Linked DNA regions of Homo sapiens: regions 2 and 3 are each linked to region 1. Evidence: fine-mapped expression QTL. A gene starts in region 1. Each other region holds a variant in brackets. All regions are shown on one strand. Distances are between the middles of the regions.

Region 1 (5,446 bases):
GCTCCGGTGTGTCTTTATCAGCAGCATGAAAATGGACTAATACAATACTAAACACCTCCAGAGAAAATAACTCAACCATATGTATTGGTGCCACTACAAAAAGGTCCCTCAGCCCCACCTTCTCTCTTTTTTTTTTTTTTTAGACGGAGTCTCGCACTGTTGCCCGGGCTACTGGAGTGCAATGGCACAATCTCGGATCACTGCAATCTCCACCTCCTGGATTCACGCGATTCTCCTGCCTCAGCCCTCCGAGTAGCTGGGATTACAGGAGCACACCATCACACCTGGCTAATTTTTTTGTATTTTTAGTAAAGACGGGGTTTCACTATGTTAGCCATACTGGTCTTGAACTCCTGATCTCGTGATCTGCCTGCCTCAGCTTCCCAAAGTGCTAGGATTACAGGCATGAGCCACTGCGCCCAGCCCCCACTTCATCTTTTTACCTGACCTTCGATAGCTCCCTTTCTATATCCCACAGCAATAATTCCATACCATCGCCTCTTCTCACTCACTTGCCCCATCACTGAGCTTCTCTTTAGGAAGCCTCCTGGTCTTCTATTTTGAGAGAAAATTCAAGTGGGGTGCGGGCTGGCTCTGGCAGGGCCTATGTCACGGGCCCCCCTGCTCTCATGGTCTCTGCCTGTTTCTTATGAGCAGGCCTCTGCCTGAAAGACCTTCCTTCTGTTTGCCCCTTGCTCTCGCTACCCAACATTTCCTAAAATACACTCAATTCTTTTTCATTTCCCAACTTAAGGGAAAACTGTCTATGAGCCACCCCCCTCCACAGCTGACCACCCGCTTTGTGTTTCGATTTTATTGTATGCACTTCTATTACAACACATCAGAACACATCACATTACACACGTGATCATGTTTCATTACGTTTATATATTTATGTGTCTCTCCTTTAACTAGACTGAGAGTCCCTTGAGGAGAATTATTGTATCTTATTTGTCTTGTTTTCTCCAACACTCTAGCACTATGCCTTTAATGTTTTGAGAAATAGGGAAAAGGAAAGAAGGAAGGACGTCTCCAGATGGTGAGTGGTGTGGCCAAGTCTCCCCACCCCACATACACACACCAGGGCACATCAGTCCTGACTCTCACCTCCTCCCAGTGATTAATCTGTTTGGAGACCAGGGTCTGCCCAGACCCCCAGGCAGGAGCTCACACCCGTCCAAATGACAAGTGCACGGGCATGTCCATCAAACCCGCTTCAGAATCAGGAAGGCACTCTTGGCTACCTTGATGCTCCAGACCATCTGGTCAGGTGGCATAGCGCCCACTTGCAAGGTCACTTCCTTACTGCCCTGAACACTCCAGATTATGCTGCCAAGTAAACTTTCTCTTTGAACTGCCACAGGAAGTCTTCAGCACCGTCGGTAGTCCCTTCATCATTCACATTTCTGTTTTAGCTCCCAACTAGGTGGCAGGGACTTTTCTCCAGAGCATTGTTGCCATTTTCTAAGTGCTCCTGAGGACATTAGAATGGTCTGGGAAGGTAGAGGGGCAGAGCCCACTTCTCGGGTTCCTTTTCTGCGGGAAGGCAGGCAGCAGTGAAAAGGTATGGACCGTGAAACCGTGGATTCACATTCTGCCATCTCACGGGAGTGCCCAGTCTGCTTAGTGGACACTGATCCTAAATCAAACCATTTGCTTTAGAAGTGATGAATCGTAAACTACGGGTCACATCTAAATGATGGCTTCTTTCGTATTCAAAGGAAGTCTCTGCCCCAACAGCAGCAATGGACGAGACAGGAAGCTGCAACGCACTTCTTGTTGGCAGAGTTTTGGGTTGGGATTTGTTTGAAGATTCCTTTAAACATCTAGGGAGTAGTCCATGATGATGAAAGACTGCTCACAGCACAGAGAAGGTGGACGAAGGGCAACCATGAGCAGCTCTGTGCAAACGATGCGAATCCTATGCCTAAATGGAAAGGAGACCCACCCTGCGGGCACAGCTCCTAGGGCCCAAGGTGGACATGGAAGCTGGCTTCACGCAAAACTGACACTAACACTTTTGACACCTGGTCAGTGCTTCCGGTATTTTGTCTTCCTATAGGTTCCTGTGTAGACAAGTGAAGTCTAATTTGCTAAAACCAAAAACAATCCAACATAGAGCATATTCCAAAGCAAATATATTACAGGATTATCTGAAAGGACACCTCTATCTCTGCTTTCCTTTTCTATGTTTTTGGGGAGGATAAGGCGAGAAGAGATAGAGGGAAATAGAAACCCTCATCCTTGAAGACTCAGCAGAAAGGCACCTTTTCTGTGAGCTTCTCCTTAACCATTGCAACCCACAGTGATCTCTCCTTCCCCTGAATTCCTATAAGATTTTGTATTTTACTATATCGCACGCTGACTGGCATTACTAGATAGCCAATCGCGTTCAAAGCGCTGGCATCCCCAGTTAGCAGGAGGTCCTGGAGGACAAGGTCTGCTTCTATTCGTCCACGCTGCCTCTCACATTGAAGACAGCAGATGCTCAAAATATTTGATTGTTTGTGTAATGCCACCAGCAAATAACCCTCAATCACAAATTTGATTTTGTGATACAGTATATGAAATGTACAACATAAATCTATCTCTGTATCGTTTCATGCCTTATATTCTGCAATTCCTGACAACAAATGAGGGTCTTTGTGCTGGGGACGCGGGGTACCGGCTCTAGGGGAAACCGGATAAATGTTAAGACACATCAGGCCAATGAAACTTCGCCTCCATGAAATTAAAATAAACCGGATTATTGACAGCGTGCCTAAGCAGTAAAGGACAGGCTTCATTTAATAACCAGAACTAGGACGCGTTTTAAAGCGCCTGGAAGTCTGGGTCTTAGCGGTGATTGCTGCGGCGGCTGTTTCGTGGCACTTCGGAAATCTGCGCCAGCTCTTGGCGAGCACGCGCCCCGTGCGCGCTCAGGCTCACGCTCAGGCTCAGAGACTACCTCGCGCAGGGCCGTCAGGGCGGCTCCTCGCCAGCAGAGGGCGCCGGGCAGCGCCGCTCCTCGGGGCGCGCGCGGACGCTCTCCCAGCATGCCTCGCTCCCGTCGACGTCGACCCGGAAGCTGTCGCCGGCGGCCGGCCGGCGGTCAGCCTTCACACAGGCCCGGCTGCGGAGCGCAGTCGCCCAGGTTTACGGCGGCAGAGGGCCGAGGCTCCCGGAGAGGACCGCGATGAGTCCACTTCAGGTCGGGGCTGAGTGTGGGCGCGCGGTTCCCGGCGGCGTGTGACCCAGTCTTCGCCGGCCGCTGCCCGCTGCGTGTGTAAGTGTCCGTGGGCCCCAGGGCCTTGCAGCGCCCGCCCCGAGGCCCCGAAGAGGCCTTCCGCCTGGGGCAGTGTGAAGGCCACAGAGTTTTCCTCCAAAGCCACACCTCAGCTGGAAGGGGCGAGTTGGAGGGCTCTGTTAGTGGTAGCCATGGGGAGACGCGGAGCTGCAGCTGTCGCTTTGCAGTGCCTGTAGGACTTTGAGGGCCTGGAGCCCCGGTTCCCTGAACAGCACCCAGATCGCCCCATATCTGAGACACAGTTCATGCCCCCCTTCCCTAACTCTGAAGTAAAATCTTGAGGGCTGTCATCTGGGGAAGCCACCTTGTCCGTTCAGCCATGAAGACAGAAACAGTGCCACCGTTCCAGGAAACTCCAGCTGGATCGAGCTGTCACCTCAATAACCTGTTGAGTAGCCGGAAGCTGATGGCTGTGGGGGTCTTGCTTGGCTGGCTCCTGGTCATACACCTTCTGGTCAACGTGTGGCTGCTGTGCCTTCTGTCGGCATTGCTAGTGGTGCTGGGAGGATGGCTGGGCTCCAGCCTCGCTGGAGTGGCTTCAGGTCGACTGCATCTGGAACGCTTCATCCCGTTGGCCACCTGTCCTCCATGCCCTGAGGCAGAAAGGCAGCTGGAACGGGAGATCAACCGCACCATCCAGATGATTATTCGAGATTTTGTGTTATCTTGGTACCGTTCCGTGAGCCAGGAGCCAGCCTTTGAGGAAGAAATGGAGGCAGCCATGAAAGGGTTGGTCCAGGAGCTTCGGAGAAGGATGAGCGTGATGGACAGTCATGCTGTTGCCCAGAGTGTTCTGACTCTCTGCGGTTGTCACCTGCAGAGCTACATTCAGGCAAAGGAGGCCACTGCAGGGAAGAATGGTCCAGTTGAGCCTTCCCACCTCTGGGAGGCTTACTGCCGGGCGACTGCCCCACATCCTGCTGTGCACAGCCCCAGTGCTGAAGTCACCTATACGCGTGGCGTTGTGAATTTGTTGCTTCAAGGGCTGGTGCCCAAGCCCCACTTGGAGACTCGTACCGGACGCCATGTAGTGGTCGAACTCATCACATGCAATGTAATCTTACCACTGATCAGCAGGCTGTCAGATCCTGACTGGATCCACCTTGTACTCGTGGGTATCTTTTCCAAGGCCAGAGATCCAGCACCCTGCCCAGCCAGTGCCCCCGAACAGCCCTCAGTGCCGACATCTCTGCCACTGATTGCTGAGGTAGAGCAGCTTCCAGAAGGGAGAGCTTCTCCAGTAGCAGCCCCAGTATTCCTAAGTTACAGTGAGCCAGAGGGTTCTGCAGGCCCCTCTCCAGAGGTTGAAGAAGGCCACGAAGCTGTAGAGGGAGATTTGGGTGGGATGTGTGAAGAAAGAAAAGTAGGAAACAACTCATCTCATTTCCTACAGCCAAATGTTCGAGGTCCCCTGTTCTTATGTGAAGACTCAGAGCTGGAGTCTCCGCTGTCTGAACTGGGCAAAGAAACCATCATGCTCATGACTCCAGGCAGCTTTCTCTCTGACAGGATTCAGGATGCCCTGTGTGCCCTAGAGAGTTCCCAGGCTCTGGAACCCAAAGATGGTGAGGCATCTGAAGGAGCAGAGGCTGAGGAGGGTCCAGGGACAGAAACAGAGACAGGCCTGCCGGTCTCCACACTGAATTCCTGCCCAGAGATCCATATTGACACAGCAGACAAGGAGATAGAACAAGGAGATGTTACCGCCTCTGTTACAGCTTTGCTGGAGGGGCCAGAAAAGACCTGCCCCTCACGGCCGTCATGCTTAGAGAAGGATCTCACCAATGATGTGAGCTCCCTTGATCCTACTCTGCCACCAGTTCTGCTTTCCTCCTCTCCACCTGGTCCTCTCAGCTCAGCCACCTTCAGCTTTGAGCCCCTAAGCAGTCCCGATGGTCCAGTTATCATCCAGAACCTTCGTATCACTGGCACCATTACAGCCCGAGAGCACAGTGGCACTGGATTCCACCCATACACACTCTATACTGTGAAGGTAACAGGATTAAAGCTGTGGGTGCTCACCCGGGCTAGGAGTGGGTTTGGAAAGCAGTCATGAAGCAAATGTTCTTGGGGGAGAGATGCTGTTAGTTTGAAGTGGTTCTTTCAATAGGCATCTATCTCTGTGAATGGTCTGAAGCTAATATGTAAGGCAGAGTAGCG
Region 2 (5,446 bases), 21 kb after region 1:
TCAGGCAGTTTGTAGAATCCAAACTGCATCTCCGTATCTACACACTTGCAGCTAACCTAAGGGCAGTGCTGCAGTCTAAAGACAGCCCATGTTACTATCCCTGGGACAGTTGCAGGTTTTAATTTTAAAAAGTGGTGTATGCATTGCTGCATGCTTCAGCTTTATTTGCTTTGGTAAGCCAATATGCTGGAAACTTGACATCTCCAGAGCTGCAGCACCTCTCCACTGTACCCCCTGCATCTCCCACAAGAGGCATGATATGAGGTCCCGTTGCCTCCCATCCCCATGACTGCTGCCTAGGAGGCTACATGTTTGTCCTCCCTGAAACCACGGGTAGCTGAGCCATATGCTTTTGCAGGGTACTTGGGTTCTCTTCCTTTAAGTTCCGTGCTTAAAAGAGCAGGATAGTTGGTGTTGGTGCCACACGTGGTACTGCCACTTCTCTAGTTATTTAGAACTCACTGCAGTTTGACCATCAGGGATGCTGTAGTCACCAGATTTGAGTGCATCTCCTCCTTAAAATGTCCTCATGTTCCAACCTCCAGTATTATTATCCCCAAGCAGGCAAGTTTATTCCTCTGCTTCCAACTTTGTATACCCATCTTGCAACTTTAAAAGACCTGTGTACATTACTGCCTTGGACGCCATAGACTTCTGTCAAATTATAAGCACACTCTCTATCCTGCAAAGGAAAAAAAAAAAACAGAGTAAGTTCGACCTCATAACCCCTCCTTCTAAGCCAAAGTTGGAAGAGCTCTGATCTGAGCCAGGCTTATAAATCTCCGTTGATTGTTGATGATGTGGAGAGAAGTGGGAGGGGAGCTGAAGAGAAGTTAGATGCCCAAAAAAGGCATTGTTAAGTCAAAGGGAAGTCTTGCATGCATGTGCGCCTAACCTCATGTGTCAGCTTCTGTGCTGGGAACATCCAATTATGTAACAAGAAGCACTCCTTATTTGGAATGAGAGACAAAGGGAGGGGAAGGGGAGAGCGGGTAGCACTCTGAGCCAAGGAGCAAATCCGGCTTGTGCAAACTCTGCTCATGCCCGAAAACAGAAGAAACTTGAAAATATCTCTGCAAACATCAGAATCAGATTTAGCAAACTGGGCAAGTACTCAGAGTTAGACTGGGTTGGAGGGAAAGAGGAGAGATACACTGTGCTGCATTGATGGTAGGGGGTTTGGGGCAGGAAGATCCAGCCAAGGTAAGGGGTAGGATTGGTGTGGAGTCCTGATGGAAAGTGAAGGAATGAGAAGCTGGACCGGCGCCCTGCCTGGACACCCAGAGCAATGCCACGATAAAAATAGGAACCATGCCAGCAGCAGAATGCGTGAATGCCACGTCCGCGGCGCTGCCCTCCCCATGGCCCCAACGATGGCATCAGACCTGTGTCAAAAGGGCAGCAGACACATTCCTGGCATCTGCGTCAGGATTTCTCAGTTAAAAAGGGAGTGTGTGTGTGTGTGTCTGTGTGTGTGTGTGTAAGATAGAGACAGAGTGTGTGTGTGTGAGTGTTGGGGGCATGTGGGAATGGAATGGCTTGGCAGAAAGCCAGGGGGAAAGGTTCTGGCAGAGGGGAGCGTGAAGTGTGTAAAGTTAGGAAGTATCCAGAGAGGAAGAAGAAAAGAAAGGGTGTGCAGGTTTAAGGAGTCCAACAAGCAGGGCACCCAGGAGAAACTTGATGGCAAGCTCTAGACCTTACACCAGACCTTGGAATCACTTTCTTAGAGAAGATGTCTCTCTCTAAACCATCTCCTAGGAAAGGTCAGGAGAGCTGCGGCAGAGTCTGGGAGCACTGGAGAGTGCTGTGCTGCAAGGCGCAACGTCCACCTCCCCTAAGGACAGTTGGGAAAGGTTGACCATGAACCCTCTTGCTTCCACTGTTCTCTTAGAACGCTCCAGAATCAAGGCGCTTTCTGTGGAACTCTACTTCAAGGGCCTCTTTCTTGGTGGGCATGTCTAACTAGCAGGTGGATAACAGTTCTTTGTGACATTGGTTATTTCTTAAGAGAACCTCCAGGTCTGCCACCAAAAGTGCACGAGTAATTGCAATGGGAAAGGAACTGACGCTTATTACAATATTAATACCAGGAAAGCAGCTATGTACTGTTTATATTAATGTTCAATTCTATGAGATAGACATGTAGTTCTACATTTCATAAGTGAAGAAAATTACATTCAGATAAAATAACGTTCCCAAAATCATAAAAGTCGTAACAACCACACCTTAAGATTCCACTTAAGTCATCCTGGCCTCAGAGCTCATGTGTTTCCCACTGCTCTGCCATGCTTCCCCTCCATGCAAGCTTTCCCACAAAGCAGTGGCCACTAGAACTGGGTTCACCTGAAAGTTCCCTTGCCGTATTCCCATCTAGCCTCTCTTGCTTTCCATCCAGCTGGTCTCAGGGACACACGCATCTGATGGTAGCATATAAATTATTTTTGTCTGCATATTCTGATTTTATTTTTAAAGCACTTCTGAGCCAGAGATTGTCTCTTAGCTATCTCTATTTATATGCTATTCACAATCAGGAAAAGATTATCAACGTTAAGACTCAGAGTTTCTCAGGAAGCATAGATTACAGTTTTTTCCTTTGCTGTGTAACTTTTTCTTCCAGTTCAGCTCTGATGCCTGGCTATGTCTTATACCCCATCTCTTCCTATGCACAGCTTTTCTAGAAATACGCATACTTTTGCAAGACCCCCACATACAAAATTAACTCAAGCTCAGTCTTCAGAATTCTCGCTTATTTTCTGGCTCTCCAGTCATTGGCTTGGGCTGTTTTTAGAGGTGCTGAAATTAATTTTTCTCATTGATGGCTTTGCTCAGATTGTACTGTGGCTCCCTGGGAAGGAGTACTGCTTGTCCCAGGCCTCTTCCATTAGGCCATGCCAAAGGGAAGCTCTTGACTTCTATAGACTGGGCCAGGATGGGCCCTAGCAGTTTCCCCTGTCATATGAGTGGTCTGCCTGTCATATTTCTTGGGTATCACTTATTCTACACCCATCTTAGGATGAAGACATCATGGCTTTCCTGTCACATAGTGACAGTCTCTACTGGAATATATCTTTGAGATTGTAGCAGGTGGATGGCAGCTGACAGCCGTGTGCCTGAGCATTGCATTTGCATTTCTGTGTGTGTGTGCTCTTGAAGTCTCATATACTCAAATAGAGGTACAAAATTGCTCATTGTAAAAGTTAACAAAAAACAGAATATCATGAGGTATTTAAACCTCAGAGCCTTTTTTTCCAAGTCAGGTTCTTGGCATCTCTTGCCCATCTGTGACTGCAAACAGGAACCTAAGATTTTGACATTTTGATGACAGCTTTAGAATGTATGTCAGCATCCTGAG[G/A]GCAGGGACTGCGTCTTATTTACCATTATATCTTCAACACCCAGCCCCATGCATAGAAGGCACCTAGTAAATTTGTGTCAAATAAATGAACACAGAAGATCACACGTCATTCTACTGGAGGCAGTCCCTCTGCTTATCACTATTAAGAATCTTAGGGTTTCCTCAACAGTGCTGGGGGACCAGAAGCAAAATGGAAACTGAGTCTTTCATTCCCTCCACACAGGGCATACCCAGATCTTCAGTTAATTGGGGAATTCTGATTCCCAGAGCCATGGTACGGCCTAAGCAAAGAGGTTTGGGGGCCCTTCAGGCCATCTCCCATTCTAATGGCTCTCTCCTTTCCAAAGAGTGCAGCGCCCCTCCACAACCTGGGCCTCCCAGTATGAAGCCCCACCGAGCCTGCCCTCTCTGGAAGCATCTCCTGCTGTTGTACTTTCTCCACCTCTTTCCTTCCACATGGAAAGCAAGAACTTGGACTTTGAAGTCAGATCTGAAATCAGATCTTGCTTTGAGGCTATGTGACTTAGAACAAACCACTTAACTTCCTTTGTCTGTTACTGTCGAAATAGAAATCATAGCCTAGTGCATGAAGTTCTTTGGGGGGATAAGAGATAATTTAGAGGTAAATGTTAGAGAGGCTTTATAGAGGAAGGTATAACAGCTAGATCTTGTGAGATAGGTGTCATTTAGACTGGTTTAGGCTAAATAATATTCTAGACACTAAGACATTTTTAAAACAGGAGGAGGGGCATTCTACTTTCAAATAAAAAGCAACCTGGAATATTTTTAGCCAGCTTCTTTCTGAATGTGTGTTGCTTTTATTGTTTCAAATAGGTGACAAAAAGCCTACCAAACTGCTGCTGCATGGCGTGGGCACAGGAATTCTCTCTATGGGCACCAGGTGGCGCTGCAGGTTAAACAATACCATTCACTGTCCTTTGAGGAAGACCTGTTTGTTTTGCAGTTATAGGTCCCCTGCCGTGATGTTGATACAGTATATTGAAGCCATTCCCTGGCTTGCTCTACGGTTTAGAGGCCACTTATCTGCCTACTCCTTAGTGCCAGTGACTTTTAGATAAGCCCTGTTTCTTTGATCTTTCACCCTTCTTCCTTCTGCTCTAATGCGTCTTCAGCATATGCTTGCTTCTCTGAGTGGTGTGGATGACCAGAAGTTGCCCCTTTGAGTGGATCCCACCCGTTAAAAATTCAGTGCTGGAGCTGATTCATTCAGAACAGAGTGAGCAGAACAGAGTCTGTGGTGATGAGACCAGCTAGACATCTGAATTGCAAGAATTTTGTTAATATTCTGTATAAACTACTTGGACCTATATTCAGGGTCTCCTGTGATCCTAAAATCTTATACATTATGTATTCACTAAGATGGAGATTGTCAGTGCTGAATAGCCCCGATGTTAGGAATCTTATCAACCTGTTACATAATCAAGGACATTCCCTATTGCTTTCGGCCATGGATGGAGACCGTTTGGCTCTCCCCCATTAACTTGGTTTTGGAGAAGCAACCATATGTTATTGCTTACTTTTGATCTTTACCTCTGTCCTTGCAGGCTTCTCCAAGTGCCCTTTGGAGAAGTAGAGCTATTTGGTACTGGAGCAGGGAGGGAGTTGGGTAAATTGGTGGGAAATATACTTTAGCTCTAATATAATGCTGGCCCCGAAAGATTTCTCGGAGAGGATTCAGCCTTCCTGGGAGGGAGGCTGGTGTGCAAATGCAGCATCAAGGTAAGTTCCTCAACACCTGCCTCCTCTCTCCCCCAGGTTTCCTTTTTGTTGTTTTTCCAGTTTTATTTATTACTCCTCTGTGTTTTCTACCCATAGTCAGTGCTCCCAAAGTTCCTATTCTGTGGAGATTCTGGAGTTGCCACTTCGGTGTCCCTACGTCCTTCATAACGGGATAGATGGCCTTCTACTTGGAAAGGTTTTACATTTCAGCCTGTAGACAGGGAACTGGAAATACTTTTGGGTAGCTCTTCTACACCAAGGTGATGGTGTTAATGATAGTCACTTTTCCTTCTCCTCTACACCCCTCTCAGTGTTTTTTCTCTTTGTTTATCTTGGGCATCTGCTTCTCATATA
Region 3 (5,446 bases), 40 kb after region 1:
TTTTGTGAGGATTTTAGTTTGGCTGTATGGTTTAGAGGTAGGCCTGAAATACCTAACCTATGTAAAAACGGCAGAGATCCTGGGGAGAGACTGTCCTTAGAATCTAAAACTTCAGTGATAACACGCAAATTCCATCTGTTTTTTCCTCCTCAGATCTCGTAGTAGAAATTCTTGGGGTGAACAAATGCCGGCTGAGCTGGGGTCTAGTCCTGGAGTCACTACAACAACCCCTCATCAACAGGTAAGTGGGAAAATGTTATTCCAACATCAGCATAGTTACAGCCACCTCTGGTCTCAGAGGTATCCAAGGTTTCTGAGTGAAAAGCCCACATTCCAAAGAATAGGATTGTAGTCTTTACTTGCTCTGGGCACTGACTACAGAGTTTGACGTCCAGATCCACACACTCTAAGTAAAATCCACACCATCAGGCTTCTGAGCAGGTCGTCATGTGCTAGGAAATCACTCTTGGACCACCCACCATTTGTGTTTGGAAGAACTCTATGCAGGCCCCCACATGAGCTGCTGAAAATGACCTCTTATCCTCCAGGCTTGTTCAGCATACTTGCTCAGTGCTCTTTCCAACATCTGCCAGCCCCTGTGAATGCTCCAAGAGCGTACCCTGGCCTGTGTATCACAGACCATGTAAAGATGTTCACCATGAGCCCTGGCCTTATAGCAAAGCTGTGATTCATGTCAAGACCAGGAGTTGTCTTTGCTTCATATCAGGTAGACAAGATAGTAAGGTTGGAATTTCATAAAGGGACCAGAAATGCTGGGTGAAGAGTCCTAGAATAATCCAGAAGAGGTAGATTCCATCCCTTGGGCTGTTACTCTTCTGGAAGTATTGAGTAACCTTGCACTCAAACCCTACCCCAAAGTAGACTGTGTTCGTTAACTTCCTCAAGGATCCTGGCTTTACCTCACTGCCTGTAAGGCAGCCTATAAATTTAAGGTAATTAATTATGAGAAACAGCAGTAGTCAGGAGCTCTGAAAGTGTCTAGTAACCTGACATCTCAAGGATTTGTTATCACAGTTCTTCAGAGCAGTGCTAATGTAACTATGTAAAGAGAAATGGAATTTTATAAAACTTAGTCTTATATAAAACTAGTCTTATATAAAAACTGTTCTTGCCTTTATTAGGGTCAGAGGCTTTATTAGTTCAAAAAACATTAATTTCATGGCAGAGGTTTCATCAAGCTATTGAAGTTTAGGGTGTCGGTGATGGGGGAGGAGAAAATAAATGTCATAAACAGGATCTTGTGTTTCCTGATTGAGCCAGACCCTAAGTTTTTTGTCCATTCGTTTCAGGCATTTGATTTACTGCCTTGGGGACATCATCCTGGAATTCTTGGATCTCAGTGCCTCTGTTGAGGAGTCTGCTGCTACCACCTCTGCCTCAGATACCCCAGGCAACTCTAAGAGGATGGGTGTCTCCTCTTAGCTGGTTATTCACGCCTTCTTCCCAGGTCAGGGAAGTAGAGTTACTCGGCCACCAGAGACCAGTCAGGAAGCCCGTGCCCTCTTCAAGTAGGCTACAGCTAAGAAGGCCTAGGTTCTCGGTGGCTCACTTCTCTCCCACTTCTGCTCCATTTGTAGCAGGTGACAGGGGTCTGTGTGTCCCAGTTGTATGCACGTTTATTTCCCTGTTCCTTTTGTGATGTTGGGATTGTTGCTGGTGAGTAGATCCTGTTTCCTTTGGGAAAAGAAGCTGTGAGGTAGAGGAATGAACCCCTTTTGCTTCTCCTTTTGCCATCCTCCCTGAGATTGTTTGCCAGAATCCTGGCCCTGTGCACACATGTGCTTAATCCACCAGCACACAAGCTCTAGATAGAACAGGAAAAAAACTGTGGCCAGATTTCCTTGGAGGAGAAAACAACCTTCTCAGCTCTCTGTTCCTACCCGGAAACTAAAAATTCATTCAGGGCCATTCTCAAAAACCAGACTCCTGGGTCTAATCTAGTTTCCCAACAGTTCCAGAAGAAGAAGGAGGGAAGAAAATTTTTCAAGGAACTTCTTGCTCATGTGTTGCTGTTTCCCAACACATCAGCCTTATGGAAGATGTCATGAGGCTGCTTGCCTGGGAGGCTACACTTTCCTTTCCAGAAGACTTCAAAGCTGACTGCCAAAGCTTCTGGTAAATCCACCCCACCCTTCACACCCTTTCCTGAAAGGCATTTATACCACCCATTTTATTTATTGGCTTTGCTCCCAACCCCCTGCCCTAGAGCAATTGAGTTTTTGAATTTTTGACCCTCTCTCTGTCTTCAGCAAAACTGCATGACAAGCTGCATATTCAGCCTCAGTTTTTCCAAGGAGAATGGAAAGCACTTGCCTCCTGTCTTAAGAATGCACAAAGAGTAGGACTAGCAAGGCTGGGGGATGAAATCTCCCTTCCTAAGTCTTTGACAGAGAACTTTTATTATTCTGAACAGATAAGATTAGCAAACTTACAAGGAATAGCTTCTTATTTCCCATTCCTTACGGTTATAATCAGTCCTTTAACAACACCAGCATGAAGGCAAAGGTGTTTTGTCAGACTGCAACATCTATTAGAAAGGCAAGGCAACTGGGAATTGCTGGAGAAGGATAAATCAGGAGGAATTGCTGGTAGAAAAGGCTGCAGACAGTCACAGGGAAGTGCTGTATATTAAATGCATGTGAATAGCTGGCAAAAAGATGTCAAGGATGTCACTGGGAGCCCTTTGGCTTCACACTCGCCTGTTAGCGCCTTGCTTTCGCTGAATTACCAGAGCCTACCACTCGGAGGAAGGTCTTGGAGTTAGACTGATGAGAAGGCAATGGGGTGTCAAAAACAAGTGTCAAAGTTCTCTTAGATTCTGAAGTCGGTGATGAGCACACAATTAAAGTGGTTTGTGGAAGAAAGTTGTAAAATCTTTTTACTTTTTTGCCCCTCTGGAGGCTTTTAACCCTAAATTGTGTCTGATGTATTCGGGAGGCTTAGGTGTGCAATTCTTGCCCAAAGGCAAGGAGATGAAT[G/A]AGATGTCTCATGGCCTCTTCTAGCCTTAAAAGTTGACCATTACAGTGACTTTATGGCTCCAAAGTTCTTGAAGCATCTCCAGCCCTAGACTTTGACAAGAAAAGGTAGCTCAGCATCTCTACTTTCCGTGAGTACCTGCAGGAGTCCAGCCAATGTATTAGAGCTGATCATTAAGCTCCTTCAGTGAGGGCTAAGATCCTATTCTCGATGAGCATAGGGGGACAGCCTTGTTTTATGCCACTTTTCTCTCCCCATACCTACCTTCCCCTCATGTGTACTTAGCCACCTGTGTTGCTTTGAATCTGCTGCCAGTTCTGGCTCAAATGTGGCACAAAATCAGTACATCAGACACACCATGAAATCCCTGTGGCTATAAATTCTAAGGAATCTTTTGACACTTCCAGCCCAAAGAACTTATTTTTATTTCGTATTATATAAGAGTCCCCACCTCTACTCCACGTACCCCAAAAAGATAAGCTGTCCTCAGATCCTCCTTCTACCCAGGAGGGAAATAATGGATATTGCCAAGGGAACAATCAGAACTCATCTGGCTTTGAAAACGACCTGCCAAGTTTGGCTAGCAGGTTCAGACAACAAGAGAGTAACAATTGGTAGAGAGCCACAGGTAGAAAAGATACTCCCAGCTGACAGGGTGATAAAAGGCAGGGAAGAATTGGGCCTGTGCTGATCCAGGAAGGTTTTATTGTTTGCTTGTTTTTTGTATTTACTCGTGACTAAATTTTATTCATTTAAGTCAGAATTTTGATATTTGAAATAAGACTACTTTCCCTTTTCTTACTATCTATAAAAAAGACGAGGCAGGGATGCTGTGTTCTTTCTGTCAAATTCTAAATGTGATCTTTGCCATTGCTTATTTGAATTCAAGAAAGCTATACTTTTTCATCACATATAACTCACAGTTTCATTTTTGCATTGTTGGATTAGACTTAATAAAACCTAAATGGAAAATAAATTCCTAAATCTGAGCCTAGGAGCATGTATAAATTTTATTTTTATTATTATTATACATTAAGTTCTAGGGAACATGTGCACAACATGCAGGTTTGTTGCATATGTATACATGTGCCGTGTTGGTGTGCTGCACCCGTTAACTCGTCATTTACATTAGGTATATCTCCTGATGCTATCCCTTCCCCCTCCCCCGACCTCACAACAGGCCCCAGTGTGTGATGTTCACCTTCCTGTGTCCAAGTGTTCTCATTGTTCAATTCCCACCTATGAGTGAGAGCATGTATAAATTTTAAAATCAATACAAGCTACTCCAATTTCCATTTTGGAAATTTCCAGTTTACAAGGTGATTTTCTTATTGTTGTAAAGAAACACATAATGTGAGATCTACCCTCTTAAGTGTACAGTACATTATTTATTTATTTTGAGACGGTACATTATTAACTAGAAGCAGCACAGTGCTTTGTAGCAGACTGCTACAAGTTTTTCATCTTGCATAACCAAAAGTTTATACCCATTGAACAGCCACTCCTCGTTTCCCCTCCCACCAGCCTCTGGCAATCACTGTTCTACTTTCTGCTTCTGTGAGTTTGACTACTTTGAACGCCTCATATAAGTGGAATCATGCAGTGTTTGTCCTTTGACTGGCTTATTTCACTTAGCATAATGTCCTCCAGGTTCATCCACGTTACAGCATGTGACAGAATTTTCTTTTTAAGGCTGAAAACATTCCATTGTATGGCTATGCCACATTTTCTTTGTTCATTCATTGAGGGACATTTAGGTTGGCTCCGCGCCTTGATTGTTGAAAACAATGCTGCAGTGAACATGGGAGTGTGACTGTTTCTTCGAGGCCCTGCTTTTAATTATTTTAGATAAATACCCAGAAGTAGGATTGCTGGATCATATATTGTTCTGTTTTTAATTCTTTGAAGACCTTCATACTGTTTTCCATAGTGACTAGACCATTTTACATTCCCACCAACAATGTACAAGGGTTCCAGTTTCTCCACATCCTCTCCAACACTTGTAATGTTTTGTTTTTTCATAATGGCATCTTAAAAGGTATTAGGTGATATTACTATCTCATGGTTTTGATTTGCATAGCCTAGAACATTTTTGAGTCTTCCTGTGTCCTACCCAGGTTATTCATTTCCAGCTACTGCTCTTCCTTTGCTCATAGCACACAACACCAGTTGTTAGGTCCTGGAGGAAGTAAAAATATGTGTAACTATGGTCCCTGGCTATATGAATCAGGATGCTCTGGACAAGAATTAAATTATGAGGAAAATTTATTTTATTTCATAACATTAGTACGTGAGTAGGTAAGCCCAGGAGTTTGGTGATTCAGCAACTCTGAGACCTCTTAAGGGGCCTGAATTCTTTCCATCTTTCTTCCTTGCCATTCTAATTAGGTCAGCTGTGCTCTCAGACTGCCTGCCTTCCTGCTGCTGCAGTTTCAGGCATCACACCCAG

Evidence for each region.
Region 2: its variant is fine-mapped to the expression of SNX19 in whole blood (INTERVAL, PIP above 0.99).
Region 3: its variant is fine-mapped to the expression of SNX19 in whole blood (INTERVAL, PIP above 0.99).

What each region holds. Positions count from the first base shown.
Region 1 is chr11:130,914,099-130,919,544 of GRCh38, reverse strand. SNX19 (sorting nexin 19) reads left to right here and starts at 3,066. Exons shown (of 11, transcript NM_014758.3): 1 at 3,066-5,279. The coding sequence starts at 3,606. RefSeq lists a silencer at 2,874-3,153 and an enhancer at 3,274-3,323.
Region 2 is chr11:130,893,410-130,898,855 of GRCh38, reverse strand. The region is part of intron 8 of SNX19 (sorting nexin 19); the gene reads left to right. Among named protein-coding and RNA genes, the nearest start is that of SNX19, 20 kb to the left of the region's middle. The variant G/A (reference allele first, on the strand shown) is at 3,353.
Region 3 is chr11:130,874,419-130,879,864 of GRCh38, reverse strand. It overlaps SNX19 (sorting nexin 19), which reads left to right. Exons shown (of 11, transcript NM_014758.3): 10 at 154-241; 11 at 1,311-5,446. The coding sequence ends at 1,443. Among named protein-coding and RNA genes, the nearest start is that of LINC02551, 15 kb to the right of the region's middle. The variant G/A (reference allele first, on the strand shown) is at 3,000.